Regions from separate parts of the Homo sapiens genome. Here region 2 is linked to region 1. Evidence: fine-mapped expression QTL. Tissue or cell type: lung. Region 1 holds a variant in brackets; the other region holds the start of a gene. All regions are shown on one strand. Distances are from middle to middle.

The links. PIP is the estimated chance that this variant, and not a neighbour inherited with it, causes the effect.
Region 2: GLIPR1L2 starts here. The variant in region 1 is fine-mapped to the expression of GLIPR1L2 in lung (TOPMed, PIP above 0.99). The same link has a PIP of 0.9 or more in atrial appendage.

What each region holds. Positions count from the first base shown.
Region 1 is chr12:75,297,154-75,305,262 of GRCh38, forward strand. CAPS2 (calcyphosine 2) reads right to left here. Exons shown (of 17, transcript NM_001355024.4): 8 at 7,604-7,723; 9 at 2,684-2,758; 10 at 1,718-1,813; 11 at 1,534-1,627. It overlaps CAPS2-AS1 (CAPS2 antisense RNA 1), which reads left to right. Exons shown (of 4, transcript XR_001749213.2): 4 at 1,047-1,132. Among named protein-coding and RNA genes, the nearest start is that of CAPS2, 29 kb to the right of the region's middle. The variant T/A (reference allele first, on the strand shown) is at 4,994.
Region 2 is chr12:75,386,500-75,394,608 of GRCh38, forward strand. It overlaps GLIPR1L2 (GLIPR1 like 2), which reads left to right and starts at 4,590. Exons shown (of 6, transcript NM_001270396.2): 1 at 4,590-4,851. The coding sequence starts at 4,618. It also overlaps a transcript of CAPS2 not described here. RefSeq lists a silencer at 4,392-4,564 and an enhancer at 4,522-4,651.

The sequences.
Region 1 (8,109 bases):
CAAAGAAATATGGAATGAGGATAGTGAGAATAAATCATAAACTACACTAAATTTTTGGAGATATCAGCTCAAACTTTAAACTTGGAATATGCATTAAACATTCTTCTGCAGGTTGTGAAATGGGAGTCGAGCTGATTTTCTCTAGATCTCAAGAGGCAGGCTTGAGTGTCATATGTATAGTGTATAGTGTATTTAAGTATAAGATGTAAAATTTTTCCTCAACCCATACTTCTCCCTTAACTGGCCACCAAATTGTACTGACTCTACCTATCAAAGAATTTTTATTCTTCTAATTAGCTTCATAGCCAGAGTCATTTGCTTATTCAGGTTGCCATAATCTCTCTCCTAGATTAATATAATTCAATCCTATCCTGCCCTTGTGTATCTAGTCTTCAATTCCTTCCCCACATTGTAACCAGACAGATCTTTCAAAATCACAAATCTGATCATGCCACCTTCCCCCATTCCATCCACATCTTCTCTTCCAGTGACTCCCCAATACATGTTAGATAACTCTTTAACATGGGCTGCTTTTAATAAGCTCTGACTCATCTCTTGCCAACCTCCACCTTGAACTCTCCTCCAACCAGACTGAACTACTTCCAGTTCTCCAAATAAGTCATGTGCTCTCTTCCTTTTTGTTCTTAGAACAAGCTGTCTTCTCCACCTGGAAGCTTTTCCCCACCCTAACCTATTCCCTTATCCCAGCCTTGCTAACTCCTAGTCAAGGGTAGATGGCATTTTCTCTAGGAAGCCTCCTTTGATTCCACAAAACTAGGCCATCACCCCTCCTATCTGGCCCACATTGCCCCTCCTATCTGGCCCTCTTATCTATCTGTGTCTCCTATTAGACTGCCAGCTCCAAAAAAGCAGGGAATGAGTCTAACTTACTGTTCCATCTACAGATCTTAGGATAGAAACATATATTACCTGAATGATCACTGTGGATAGTGCTGTATTTTACTCACGATATAAAGTGTAAATATGATTTAAAATTTAAGAGCACTACACAAACTGTAACATTATCTATGCTCCACCCATTCTAGGGAATCCTTGTGACACACCACATGCCGGGAATTTCCCAAAGTGGGAAAATCACAAGGAAGATAGGCTATCCATCAAAAAAATGACAGCTCCAGAGGCCCATACCCCTTCACATGGAGGAAACTGTCCATCCTCGGAGGATAAACCTACTTTGGGTAATATTGAGATAGCCACTCACCCAATGACACAGCTTTGAAGAACTTTTCAAAGTACGAAGATACAACTTCATCTGGAGACAACCCATGTTGTGGAATGGGAAGGGGGGTGTTACAGAAAATAAATGATATGCTTGGATTCAGACTTGAGATTTGGGGCTGGGAAGCAGAAGCTCCTGGCAAAACATCAACCATTAGCCCACACAAATGACCCTGTTCAGGATGCAGGAGAGGAAATAAATTGAAGACTAGAAGCCCTACTCCTCCACCTCCATGGGACTCCACAAAATCCACCATCTGGTATTAAATGTGTGCACACACACACACCACTTACAACATAAAAATCACCAAGTCGGTATTGTTTTCCTTTTCTTCGTCCACACTGATGACTATAAATGCTTTTTTGAATAAAAGGAAGCACATTTGTTCTAGAAAGTAAATGAAAAAAAAATGGAAAGTTATTTAGCTTCTCTCGGAAGTGAACATCTCCAGAGTTCTAACAATGTTTAATGGCATACCTATTTTTCCCAAATTGTCGATATTCATAAATTGTAAGGGATTGGTCATGAGTGAAAAAGAACCCAATGAGCTCTCTGCAAGCATCACGTCCATTACTGGAAAAATAGAATGAAATCAAACATCTTCAAATAGAATAATTTTTAGATGAATTAACTAAAAAACATGTTCATCTCAAGAAGGATAGCTAACTCTCTTATGTATGTGGCAATGAGTGAAGGTTATGGGAAACTGTAGGGAAAACACAAAAACATAGCTTGCTGAAATGTCCACTAAAAGTTAGATTTGAATGCAGAAAAAAATAATCTTACACTGACATTAAAAGTGGATATATTTACGATGTACATTATTAATTCAACATAGACTTTTAAGACAATGTGAATTATCTTTAAAAGTGTTGAGGTTGCAAGAAGGCACCCATAGATACAAATTTATTATCTTTTATTGTCATAGAAAGCTTTAAATTCACTAAACAAATAAAATAATTTAAAATACACATTTTATCAGTAATATACAAAGAACATCAAGTAGAATTATTTATTACTGGAAATCTATAAGACTGAAATAATAGATTTAAAAATTATTTTCCTTGTCACTTACTGCACCTATCAATAATCTGTTAAATCATTAAGATAAAATTAAATAAAGCAGCTTATAAAACATTAGTTTTCAGTTTACAAAACTCTAGTAGTAATATAACTCTAAAAAATTCACTGCTGTTACTTTTTAAAAAATATTTAAATTCGCTTTAAAGATAACTTTTAATTAGAATGTTTTTCCTACAGATTCATATTTCCTATATTTTTATAACAGATTAATAGCTATTATTTTAAAATGTTTGTTCTAAATTCACGTATTTTTATTTAAATGACACAAACCTATATAATCTCATTACTGTCATTTCTATTCAAAAAGAGAATACGTTTTTATAATCATAGGATTAAAAATTTTAATAAAATCACAATTACCGTGATACGATCCTACCATCAAACTGTAATTTATGAGAAAGCACATTTTCAGTTAATGTAGAATGAGTTCTTATCCTGTTAAGAAATACATTTTGTCAGTAATTTTTCAAGATACCTATAACTTGATGGAAATTGTAAATGTACAAAAAAAGTTATGTTAATATTTTGAAACCACACAGATTGGATAACAATAAAGGTAAAAAAAAACTCTTTTTTTCAGATTGCTAATTGTAGCAGACACAAAAGAAATAACTCTGAGATATAGTATATAATACGTGAATGACTTTTATATTAGAATCTATAGCATCAAAGTGCTATAAAAGTAAATACTGAATAGAGATACAACATTTGCGACTGGCACTGTTGCAGGGCTATCTGAATGCCATTTCTAACCCTCTTCTTCTTTGCTTCCCTCACACCATAGAATTTGCTCTTAGCGGCCGGGCGCGGTGGCTCACACCTGTAATCCCAGCACTTAGGGAGGCCGAGGCGGGTGGATCACGAGGTCAGGAGATCGAGACCATCTGGCTAACACGGTGAAACCCCATCTCTACTAAAAATTACAAAAAATTAGCCGGGCGTGGTGGTGGGCGCCCGTAGTCTCAGCTACTCAGGAGGCTGAGGCAGGAGAATGGCGTGAACCCGGGAGGCGGAGCTTGCAGTGAGCCGAGATCGCGCCACTGCACTCCAGCCTGGGCGACAGAGCCAGACTCCGTCTCAAAAAAAAAAAAAAAAAAAAAAAAAAAAAGAATTTGCTCTTAGCATCTTGCAATTAAGGATGAGTAAGGGACCTAGTTCTGCCAGTAAGCTTCCAGGAAAGACTTTCTTTTGTCCTGGTAAGAGAGTGGCATGAGAAGAGTTCCTGCCTGTGAACGTGGCAGGGATGTGATGCTAGGAGCCACTATAGCCACCATGAGATCAATCCACCACATCAGAACGACCAAAAAGATATAGGAAAGCCAGCCTAGAGCGGTAACATCACTAAGCTACTGAACCAAAACCAGTAAATGCCTACCTCCAAGCAGCTAACTATATAAGAAAAATAAATCCTGACTTGTTTAAGCCACTATCAATCGGTTTTCAGTGATGTGTAGCTGAAAACATTCCTTACCAGAATAACTAAAGAGTGGGGAAGAGTGCTGAATGAAGTTCGAACTTTGTCACAGATCAATAGGTTATTTAATCTTTATGGCCTTCAGACAGTACTGAATGATCTCATAAAGGCTGCCAGCCCTAAAATTCTATTTAACAATATAAAGCAAAACCAAAACACCCTACTGCCAATAATCTCCTTTATATTAAGAGATCTGAAGACTAAATGATATATTTCTCCTTTGCTTCACAAATAATTTAATAATATTCCTTCCATAAAACTGCAGGTATAATGAAATGGCAGTAATGTAATTAGTAAGTAAGTGTGTGGGTCACTGGGATCTTGAAAGCTACACCTCTATAAAATCTAGGTATCTACAAAAAGGAAGCAGGGAACAGGAAACGTGAGCCTGCAAACCAAATGAGAGTTTGTAAGCACAGAGTAGAGCCATGGGAGTGTAACCATCTCAATTCAGTTTAATCTGCTGGGATTAATGTGTTTATTGAATGCCCACTATGTGCCTGAAACAATTCTAAATGCTGAGACAATAACAGCAACAGTACAGCTACCACTTATTGAGAATTTCCCAGATACTAGTCATTGTTAAAATCACTTTAATGTGTATTGGTTTATTTAATACTTATAATAACTCTGAGGTGTTATTATTCCCATTTTTCAAATAAATTTTACAGAAACATAGACAGATGAGTAAATTGTCCAGGGCCATATGATTAGTAAATGGCAGAGCTAGAAAAAACTTTGCTCTTAACCATTACATTATATTGCTTTTCAATAGTAAACAGAACTCACTTTAACAGTGACAAATGGAAGTAATAGCTTCAAGGGCCCTATAGTCTTCTTGAAAAGATAAAAGTAAATATGTATTTACATTATAAAATGCAAAGTGCCATGTTGGGTTTTAGATGCCCAATTGCTTTTAGGAACCCAAGTTCTCTACCAATACATAAAGAAGAATCAGAAAGACTGAAGATTAAAGTATGAATTTAGTATTGATAAAGCTACTAGAAACCATGGCTTAGGTATGCAGCAACCACAAGCTACTCCTTACCACTATAATTAAACAGACTAAGCCACTCATTTCCACTGGGGAGGGACCCTCTAAAACAATGCACAGGGCAGAATGTGCTGCTGCCTCCCAAACAAAGGGGAGAGGAAGGGCTGTACTACTCACGCCAATTCCTGCCTCTAAATTTATG[T/A]AGCAGAACTCTCTCCTCCTCTGGGAAAAATAAATGGGGCATAAGAGGAGTGAAAGCTAAAAATTCAATAATTCTAATCGATACCCCCACAGGATTTTTCATGGACCTAGATTAGCTTTAAACAAGCTGTAGGTATTTACTCTAATACAACGCAATACTAATTAAGATAGGATAATACTGACACAGGGAACAGATGATACTGAAGAAAAAGCCTAGAAACCAACCATGCATTTGGCATGCATATAAATATGTCATGTCATAACCATGCATATAACAACTTGACATATGACATATGTGGCATTACAAGTCAGAGGGAAAATGATTTAGTGGTAGGCAGAGATTATTTTTAAGGAATATACAAAGGACATTAACAATACAGGGAAAGAGGAAAACTGGCCTATGTTAAAACTCCTACTTCTAATTTTAGTTTTTGAGACAGATATAATCAAGAGAATGAAAAGGTAACTACAGAGTAGGAAAAGATATGTGCGACAAATATAGTTGAAAAAGGATTCATTTCTAAAACATGTAAATAAGATCCACAAATAAATATTAAGAAGACAGACAACTCAACAGGCTTGAATGGAAATTTTGTATGAAGATATCAAAATGGCCTATATACATATGGAAAAGTACTCAACTACATTAGTCTCCAGTGAAATGCAAATTAAAATCACTAATACACATCCATAAGAAGAACTCAAATAAAAAAAGGCAGACAATACCAAGCTCTGGCAAAGATATGGTGCAACAAGAACACTCATACTGCTACTGGTGGGAGTGTAAATTTCAGCAACCAGTTGGGAAAGCTATTTGGCTGCATCTTTCAAAGCTGAACATATGGATACTAAGTGGTCCAACAATTCTACTTCTAAGTATATACTCAGCAGAAATGAGTACATATGTTTACCAAAAGGCATGAACAAGGAAGTTCATAGCAGCACTATTCACAAAGAGCCAAATATCTATCAACCTCTGAATAGATAGGTTGTGGCATGTGGTATAATGAAATACTATACAACAATGAGAATAAAAAAAGACAACTACAAATAACACCATGGATAAAACTCACAAACCTAATGTTGGGTAAAAGAAGACAAACACATTTCACTATGTATATCAAAATATCATGTTGTACATCTTATATACAATTAAATTAACAAATAAGTGCCATTAGAGAGAAAAAACAAGCTGGACACAGAGTCTAGATTTCTTGTAATTTCATTTACATAAATTTCATAACCAGGCAGTTCTAATCTATGATATTAAGATAGAGAGGTTAACCTGGTATAGCAGGGGAAATGAATAGTAACTGGGAGGCAGCATAAGGGGAGGTTCGGGGTACTGGCAATTGTCTGTTTCTTGATCTGAGCATTTGGTACATGAGTGTTGTTCTGTTTTTGATAATTCCTATGTTGTGCACCTAAAATTTATTCACTGTGAATGTACGTTTTATTTCAATGAAAGTTGACTTTTAAAAAGGACAGTTTAGATGTGTGGTACATAAATGACGACCTCCTCTGGCCCAACATGTCTACATCCTAATCCTTGGAACATGGGAATACATTATATGGTAGAAGGGACATGGCATATGTGATAAATTAAGAACATTAAAATGGAGAGATTATTGGGATTATCTGGGTAGATTCAACGCACTCACACATGTCCTTATTGGAGGAACATAGAGAGAAATGTATCTATAGAAAAAGAGTGCCAGAGTGATGCAGCATAAGACCAGCTATTGAAGACTTTGAAGATGGAGGAAGGGGCCATGAGCCAAGGAATGAAGGCAGCTTCTAGAAGCTGCAAAAGGCAAGAAAATAGCTTCACCCCCACTAAAACCTCTAGAAGGAATGTAGCCCTATCAATCCCTTGATTTTAGGCATCTGAACTCCAGAACAATTAAACAATAAATCTGTGTTTTAGAATACTAAGCTCATGGTAATTGTTACAGCAGCAATAGGAAACTAACACATAATGCTTCCAAATATTTAAATGGATAAAAGCAATGGCTTTCAGAAAATAAGAATGGGACAAAACGATTAAAAAAAGATAAGAAAGTACTAAGAATTACAGTAGTCTGAAAATATAAAAAAGCTACTGTGGGTACTGGTAGATTTTTTTATGTCTACTAAAGCCGAGGTTAGATGTCAGTGAAACTGTTGAAGAATTTAAGTGGACAGCATCAGAGGATTGTAAAAGATCATACCAATTCTAAGGTTGAAAAAGCTACAACGTAAAATGCAAAACAAATCTTATAGTCAACACCAAGTTTTAATATGCCAATGAGATTTAGCCAGTATATATAGCACACGTAAAATTTCTCGGTAACTATATGATACATTTTCACATCCATTATCTCCAAAGGTTGTGGCTTTTTTTCCCCTAAATTACAAATAAAAAATCTGGAGGGCAAAGAGAGTAAAATAAGGTATTGCCCCTAATATCATGAAGTAGCAGAACTGGGAGCTGAACTCAAAAAATTCCACTTTTCTTTATATAGAAAAAAGTGAAACAAACACAAAAGCTCCAGCTAGACACAGAAGTACATTTTAAAAATACTTTTAGAACATAGTGCATCCTCATTTTATGTAATTAAAATCTTCTTACTTTGTTTCATGTAGTGTTCTTTTTCTAAATCGAAGAGGTGTCATCTTTGAATCTGGAAGGATATGATCACTTTCTTTTTGCTCAATGGCTAAATTTTGCTCTGGATCACTGATGACAGCCCTATACAGGAAAATAAAAAGTCCAACAATTAAATATGATCATGCATTACTTTAAAATTCACATATTTATAAGCAGTTCTAAAAGCTCATATACCAAATGCAAATTTACAACACTGTCAGAATATTTTTATTAAATAAATTTATTAAAAAATATTTTCCATAAGAAAGTAAATATTCCTATCTCTTTTTCCAGAAGTATTATCCAAAACGGAACTGAAATTTCGGAGGGAGCTAAGAGCTCCATGTTTTTATTTTACTATTCTTTAAACAAGCAGACACAGTGCTGGTTTCTGATCATGTGGGAGGTGTGTAGGAGAGAACACAGGTAAAGTAAAATAAAAATATAAAGCCATAAATGCCACAACAGAAATTCAATGAACAAACATA
Region 2 (8,109 bases), 89 kb after region 1:
CTCACTCCCTCAATATTTTACCAATCCTGTGATAATGGCATTAATACAATTCATGAGGACAGGGCTCTCATGACCCAATCACCTCTTAAAGATCCCACCCCTCAATGCTGTTGTATTGGGGATTAATTTTCCAGCATATGAATTTAGGGGGACATATTCAAACAATAGCAAAAATACAATAATTTAAAAGGTATAGTATTGGTGAAAGTAGAAATAAATCCATGGAACAGAATAGAGAGCTGAGAAATAGAACAGCATAAATAAAGTCAACTGATCTTTGACAAAGGAGCAAAGGCAATATAATGGAGAAATGTAGTCTTTTCAACAAATGGTTCTGGAACAACTGAACGTCCATATACAAGAAAAAAAAACCAGTCTAAGCACAAACTTTATACCCTTCACAAAAATTAATCAAAATGGATCACAGACCTAAATGTAAATACAAAAGTATAAACTCCCAGAAGGTTATATAAGAGAAAATCTAGATGATCTTTAATTTGGCAATAACCTTTTAGATACAACACAAAAGGTATGATTTATGAAAGAACAAATCGATAAGCTGGGTGCCATTAAAACTAAAAATTTCTACTCAGCAAAAGACATTCTCAAGAGAATGAAAAAACAAGCCATGGCCTGGGAGAAAAATACTTACAGAAGATATATGCAATAAAAACTATTACGCACAATATGCAAAGACTCTTTAAACTCAACAATCGAAAAACAAACAGTTTAATTTAAAAATGGGTCAAAAACCTTAATGGACACCTCACCAAAGAAGACATACAGTACTCAAATAAGCATATGAAAAGGTGCATCATATGTCACCAGGAAAACGCACATTAAAATACCAATGAAATACCACTACACACCTTTTAGAATGGCCAAAATCCAGAACACTGGCAACACCAAATGCTGACAAGGATGTGGAGGAACATGAGCTCTCATTCACTGCTGGTGGGAATGCAAAATGGCACAGCCACTTTGGAACATAGTTTAGCAGTTTCTTAAAAAACTGAACATTATGCTTACTGCCATAGTCTGTTTAATGTTGCTCATAAGAAAATACCTGAAACTGAGTAAGTTATAAAGAAAAGGAATTGACTTCTTAGAATTATGGAGGCTGAGAATTTCAAAGTCAAGGGGCCATATCTGGTGTGGCCCTTCTTGCTACTGGGGACTCTGCAGAATCCCAAGGCAGCACAGAGTATCACATGGTAAAGGGGCTAAACTAATCCATTAACCCATTAATCTACGAATGGATCAATACATTCATGAGGACAGACCCAATCACTTCTTAAAGGCTCCACCTTTCAATACTGTTACATTGGGGATTAAGTTTCAACATGAATTTTGAAAGGGACAAATATCCAAACAATAGCATTTACTATAACATATAGTTATGATCCAGCAATCATGCTCATGGTATTTATCCAAAGGAGTTGAAAACTTATGTCTACACAGAAACCTGCACAAAGATGTTTATAACAACTGTATTCACATTTGCAAATTGATATGGTTTGGCTCTGTGTCCCCACCCAAATCTTACCCTGAATTGTAATAATCCCCACGTGTCATGGGAGAGACTAGGTGAGAGGTAACTGAATCATGGGGGCAGGTTTTTCCCGTGCTGTTCTCATGGTAATGATTATGTCTCATGAGATCTGATGGTTTTATAAAGAGTAGTTCCCCTGCACATGGTCTCTTGGCTGCCACCATGTAAGATGTCCCTTTGCTCCTCCTTCGTCTTCCACTATGATTGCGAGGGCTCCCAGCCATGTGGAACTGTGAGTTCATCAAACCTCTTTCCTTTATAAATTACCCAGTCTTGGGTCTGTCTTTATTAGTGGCATGAGAATAGAATAATACACCAATACCTAGAATCAGCCAACATGTCCTTCAGTAGCTACTGGAATAAAGAAATGTTGGTACATCCAGAAAATGAAAAATTATTCAGTGCTAAAAAGAAATTAGGTATCAAGCCACGAAAAGACATGGAAGAAATTTACACACATATTACTAAGTGAAAGAAGCCAATCTGAAAAGACTACATACTGTATGACTCCAACTATATGACATTCTGGAAAAAGCAAAACTATGAAGACAGTAAAAAAAAATTAGTAGTTGCCGGGGTTAGGAGGCAGGGAGAGATGAATAGTCTGAGCACCAGGGATTTTTAGGCAGCAAAACGACTCTATATGGTACTAAATGCTGGAAACATGTCATTATACATTTATACCAACCCATGAAATGTGCAACACCAAGAATGAGCCCTAATATACACTATGAACTCTGGGTGGGAATAATGGATAAATGTAGGTTCATCAGTTGTAAATGTACTACTCTGTTGTGGGATGTTGATAATGAGGGAGTTTATGTATGTGTGGGGACAGGAGTTACATGAGAAATCTCTGTACCTTCCTCTCAGTTTTGTTGTGAACCTAAAACTGCTATTAAAAAAGAGTCTATTTTTAGAAAAGGAATTGGTAAAAAAAACAAAACAAAACAAAAAAAACACAGAAGTAGCTCTACCACTCCCTGGCTGGGTGGCCTCAGGCAATTTGATTTCTCTTTTTCTCAGTTGTTTTTCCATCTGTTAAAGGGATAATAACTATTTCTTAAGATTTGTGTGACTTGAGTGAGTTGATATTGTCCAAGCATTTTAAATAGTGCCTGACACATTAAATATTTGTGAAATAGATTAAAAATAGTATTCACCACTCTGTATTGTAACTGTTTGATGATTCATCTGTGTCACCTTTAATTAAAAGCTCCCTGTGGATAGACTCCATGTCTAGCTTGTTCAGCATTTGAGCCTTTAGCTGGGCTGTGACACACAGGAAGTACCAAGGAAATATTTATTGAATGAGATGTCTAGCAGTGGAATGGGCTTCCCTGTTGGTCTAATTATTTAAGAAAAGGATGTGATGATCACCTGTCAGTGATGTTCCGGAGAGTATACCTAACACAGGAGGCTAGCAATAGTGGCTAAAATTTCTTCCAAATCTAAGATTGCATTATTCTATTTATACTTTTTCTTTAGCATTTTTTGCAGTCTAACAACAGTACCACCATAATAAAAGAATTGCATCTTTCAGCACTTGCCACCTTCACCCTTAAATAGGTTCTAGCCATACTAAAATACTTCTAGCGTTTAGGATCTTCCTCTCCTTAGGCACATTACATGCTTTTCCCTTTGTTTAGAATGCTATCTTAGACTTGTCTGTTTCACTTTCTGTATACAATTTCCAGAAAGGCTTCCCTGCTCCTCCACAAGAGTACCAAGCAATAGAATTTTGGCTTTGTATTTATCACGTTTTAAATACTGCCTGATTGCTAATTCACTAAATTGTAAGCTGCTTGAAAGCTGGATCTGTGTCTTGTCTACTGATCTTTCTCAATCACTTAAAACTTACTACTATGCAGTCATAGTAGTAAGTATTCAAGGGCATAAATGAAACCATCTTACATAGGTCTATTGTTTTTCAATTGTGTGCATCACAGACAATTTTTAAAAGCACTTTTCTTTTTATAAATGTTTGGCTAACCTGTTACAATGTTTTGTAGTAAAATTCTCTCCCAATGTCAATTTTCCATATCTGCTTAATGCTATTAAGCACAATATGTAATATGCAAACGTGTATTCCAAAACTAATACTTGCTTTTTTTCCATGCTTAGAATTTAAAGTCTTCAAAGCAAGTTGGTTTTGTTTTGTTTTGTTTTTGAGGAAAATGTTTGGAGGTAAACAGATCAGACCAAAATCAGCTAGATATTAGCCAATTTTGTCTGGAACAAAAAAAGAAAACAAAAGAGTTCGTTCTTACTGTGAATGCCACAATTAGTGAAAAAGATGAATCTTGATATTCCGGGCTGTCTGAATTGTGCTGATGAGAGAAGAAGTAGAAATGTTTTAACCTTTGAAGAGTTTGGTGATCCCTACTCTCCCTTCACTCCCATTTATTTTGTGGTTTCCCACAAAGGTTCATTTAAAAACTGAAAAAAATCTCATCAATTAAGTTGGCCTTAAGAACTTCTTTGGCCTTAAGAACTAGCAATATTTCTGTATTCCATTCTGTCCCTGAGGAAAATAAAAGGCAGGCCCTGCACCAAATTTCCAACTCAACAGGTAATGGGGAAAAAAAATTTAATTGAATTTGTATCTGTATCGCAGAAAAATCATTTCACCTGGCACAATTAGAAGGTTCCTCAGACCTGTTACTCAGCAATTGGCATTTACCATACAAACTGATGACTCATTAATAACGACATATCATTCAGTGTCAGAAATCAATTCGGGATAACATTTCACTACATTAGTTTAGTGAAAAGGGCTTACTCACGTAACACAAGTCTTTCTTTAGTTTGTCAGACATCTATTACCAGCTTTCTTCACTCTGCAGGTCTAGCTTTCCCCTCCTCTCCCCCTCCCCTACCCACTCTCCCCTCCCTCTTCTCTCCTCCCTCCTCCTTACCCCCTCCTCCCTCCTTTGTTTTTCCCTCCTCCCTCCTCCCTTTCTCCTTCCGGGAGGCGGGACAAGGCTTGCTTGCGTCCTCCGTAGATTGGCAGGTCACTGGGACGGCCAGCGCGTGCGCACTGGCCTGTCAGCGGCCGGTGGACCATGGAGGCCGCAAGGCCCTTCGCCCGGGAGTGGAGGGCCCAGTCCCTACCCCTGGCAGTAGGGGGCGTTTTGAAGCTGCGGCTCTGTGAGCTGTGGCTACTGCTACTGGGTTCTAGTTTGAACGCCAGATTTTTGCCAGACGAGGAGGACGTAGACTTTATCAACGAGTACGTGAACCTCCACAATGAGCTGCGGGGCGACGTCATTCCCCGAGGGTCTAACTTGCGCTTCATGGTGAGGCCGGAAGGCGGTTTGCCGACCCTTCCACTACCGTTGCCACAACGCCTCCCTGGATCTCGGGTAGTTGGGGCCACTGCTCTGAGGCTGAAGGATCGCGGAGAACCGCACTTTTAGCTTGGTTTTTAAAGTACACGTGAAGTTTACACAGAGAAAAACTGCGGACACTCTAACACATGCTTATTACCATGATATTACACAGGGCCAGGACTAAGGTGATGGAGGCACTGGCCTGAAGTGCAGATTTTAAGGGGGCGCCAATTCAAGAAAATGATATTTTAATGCAACGGGTTTTTAAAAATTAAAAATCAGTGCAAAAATATCAATATCAAGGGTAAAGAAAATGTTAAAAAATTTAACAAAGACAGGTTCCTTGGGTCTGGATTAGGGAAAAACAAGTGCGACACTCTCAGGGTGGTGCAAATCAAGATGAGATTCTGTTTGTATTTGAAATTTTTATTTTTAGCTTTTTCCATCATCGATGTCACATTAGCTTTGCCTTTTAAAAATGTTTGTTATCTTGATTTTTTTTTTTTGTGCCCATTCCAAATTTGGCTCCTAAGGAAGTGTCTCAGTTTCCTCACCCTAGTCTTGACCCTGATTTTGCCTTACCTTACAATGCGGTTCTTGCTTTCCCCCTCTTTTACACCCTATAGTCATTTAACAACTCAACTATTCCCTGGTTGCTATTGAGTTTTCCTGACTGTCATTAAAATGACTGAAAATCCGGCAAATAAATAACTGTCCTCTTAGGGAATTAGAAGCTTCAAACTTATAAATTATATTGCAAGGACTACTTTCCTAGACATGTCTTTTCTTCCTTCAGCATTAGTTCTTAGCACAAATTTCAGAAATGGGATAAATAAATTAAGGGTATGATATTTTTTATTAATTTAACACATAGCAATTGCTATGCTAAAGGGTAGTGCCAAATTTAGCAAATACCAGCTGTTCTGTTTTCACCACATCCTCACTGATTTGGACATGTTCAATTACTTGCTAAATGAATAAATTACAAAAATGGTCATTTGTTTTAATGTTGATTTTAAAATACTATTTTGATAGGACATACTTGAGTTCTTTCTTCGTCATTTCCTTTACCTTTTATATTGTCAGCATTTCCATGTCAGATTATATGCTGTCTTATAGAACTATGCTAGCATTTGGTTCTATCTGCTGAAGATACTTTTTTCTAAGCCAATTCTTTTTCTTTTGAATTCAATTATAGAGTTTGGGGATATTTGGGAGTTTCAACTAATTTCCCATTTTTTGTGACTAATTCTGTTTCTTCCCAATTTGAAGATTATCCTTACTCCTGAAAATTAATAAACACATAATACTTTCTAATACAACTTTTCATAGGTTTTCTATCTCATCTCTAAAAATTATATAGTATTTCAAACATAAGGTATATAAAATAATATACCTGTATACCCACAATCGATATTTTTAAATATAGACATTTTTAAAGGAATAGTATTTGATATATAGGTTAAAGTCCCACCCTAAATTTTTACCTTTTTCTTCTTTCTTGAAGTTAATGTATATTTTTCCCATGTATTTTATTAGGACATAAATATTAACTGTAAATAGTATAGTCTATCATAATAGTATGGCCTATTTAAAATGTTTCTTTAGCAGATTTGGACATCACTCAGCTTATTTAAACTCTTTTATTGGTTATTTTTAGTATTTTAATGTATGTACTTTTTATAAATTCCAAAAGTTAATACCTGTAAACTCCACCCAAATATTAATAAGATCTTAGAACACAAATTCTGAATACTTTCCATCCTTATTCATGCTATTGCCGTGTAGTACTTTTGTTCTACCTTGCTTTTAAATACCAAAAAAATTGTTGTTTTTAAAAAATTGTATTACAATATACAGGACATAACATTTACCATTTTAACCATTTTTAAGTGTATAGTTCAGTGGCATTAAGTACATTTGCATTGTTGTGCACCCATTACCACCACCTATCTCCAAAATTTTTTCGTCTTCCTGAACTGAGACTCCATACCCATCAAATAATTACTTTACTCTCCATCTCCCCTCCTCCCAGGCCTCTATCACCATTCTACTTTCTATTCCTATTAATTTGACTTCTTAAGGTACCAAATATAAGTGGAATCATATAATATTTGTCTTTGTTACTAGCTTATTTCATTTGGTATAATGTCTATAAAGTTCACCCATGTTGTAGCATGTGTCAGAATTACCTGTCTTTTTACAGCTGAATAATATTCTACTGTATGCATATACCACATTTTGTTTATCCATTCATTGGTCAGTGGATATTTAGATTGCTTCCATTATTTGGCTGTTGTGAATAATACTGCTATAGACATGGGTGTACATTTATCTGCTCCAGTTCCTGATTTTGCTGTTTTTGGGTATATACCCAGAACTGGAATTGCTGTATCATATGATAATTCTGTTTAATTTTTCAAAGAACCCCCATTCTGTTTTCCATAGTGGCTGCACCATTTTACATTCCCACCAAGAATGTTCAAGGGTTCAATTTCTCCACATCCTTGATAACACTTGTTATTTTCTGTTTTATTTTCCTTATTCCTCTTTTTTTCTTAATGATAACCATCTAGCAGTTATGAAGTGATACCTCACTGTATTTTTTATCTGCATTTCCCTAATGATTACTGATATTGAGCATCTTTTTATTTGCTTCTTGACCAAGATTTTCTCTTCTTTGAAGAACTATCTATTCAAGTCGTTTGCACATTTTTTGGCCAACTTGTTAGATTTTTTGTTGTTGAATTATAGGAATTTTTATAGATTCTGGATATTAATCTTTTTCAGATATATGATTTGAAAGTATTTTCTCCCGTTTTGTAAGTTGCCTTTGCACTCTATTGATAATATCCTTTGATAAACAAAAGTTTTTAACGTCAATGAAGTATAATTTATCATTTTTTGTTGTTATTGTATGTATTTTTTGTCGTATCCAAGAAGTCATTGCCAAATTCAATATCATGAAGCTTTTCCCCTGTGCTTTTTAAAGGTTTTATAGTTTTAGGTCTTTGAGTTAAGTTTTGTATATTGTGTAAGGTAAGGGTCCAGCTTATTCTTTTGCATGTGGATATCCAGTTTTCCTAACTTCATTTGCTGGAAAGATTGTTATTTTCCCCATAAAATGGTCTTTCCACCCTTGTTAAAAATCGTTTGACCATATATGCTGGCATTTATTTTGGGGCCCTCTATTCCATTCTGTTAGTCTAATATGTCTGTATGCTA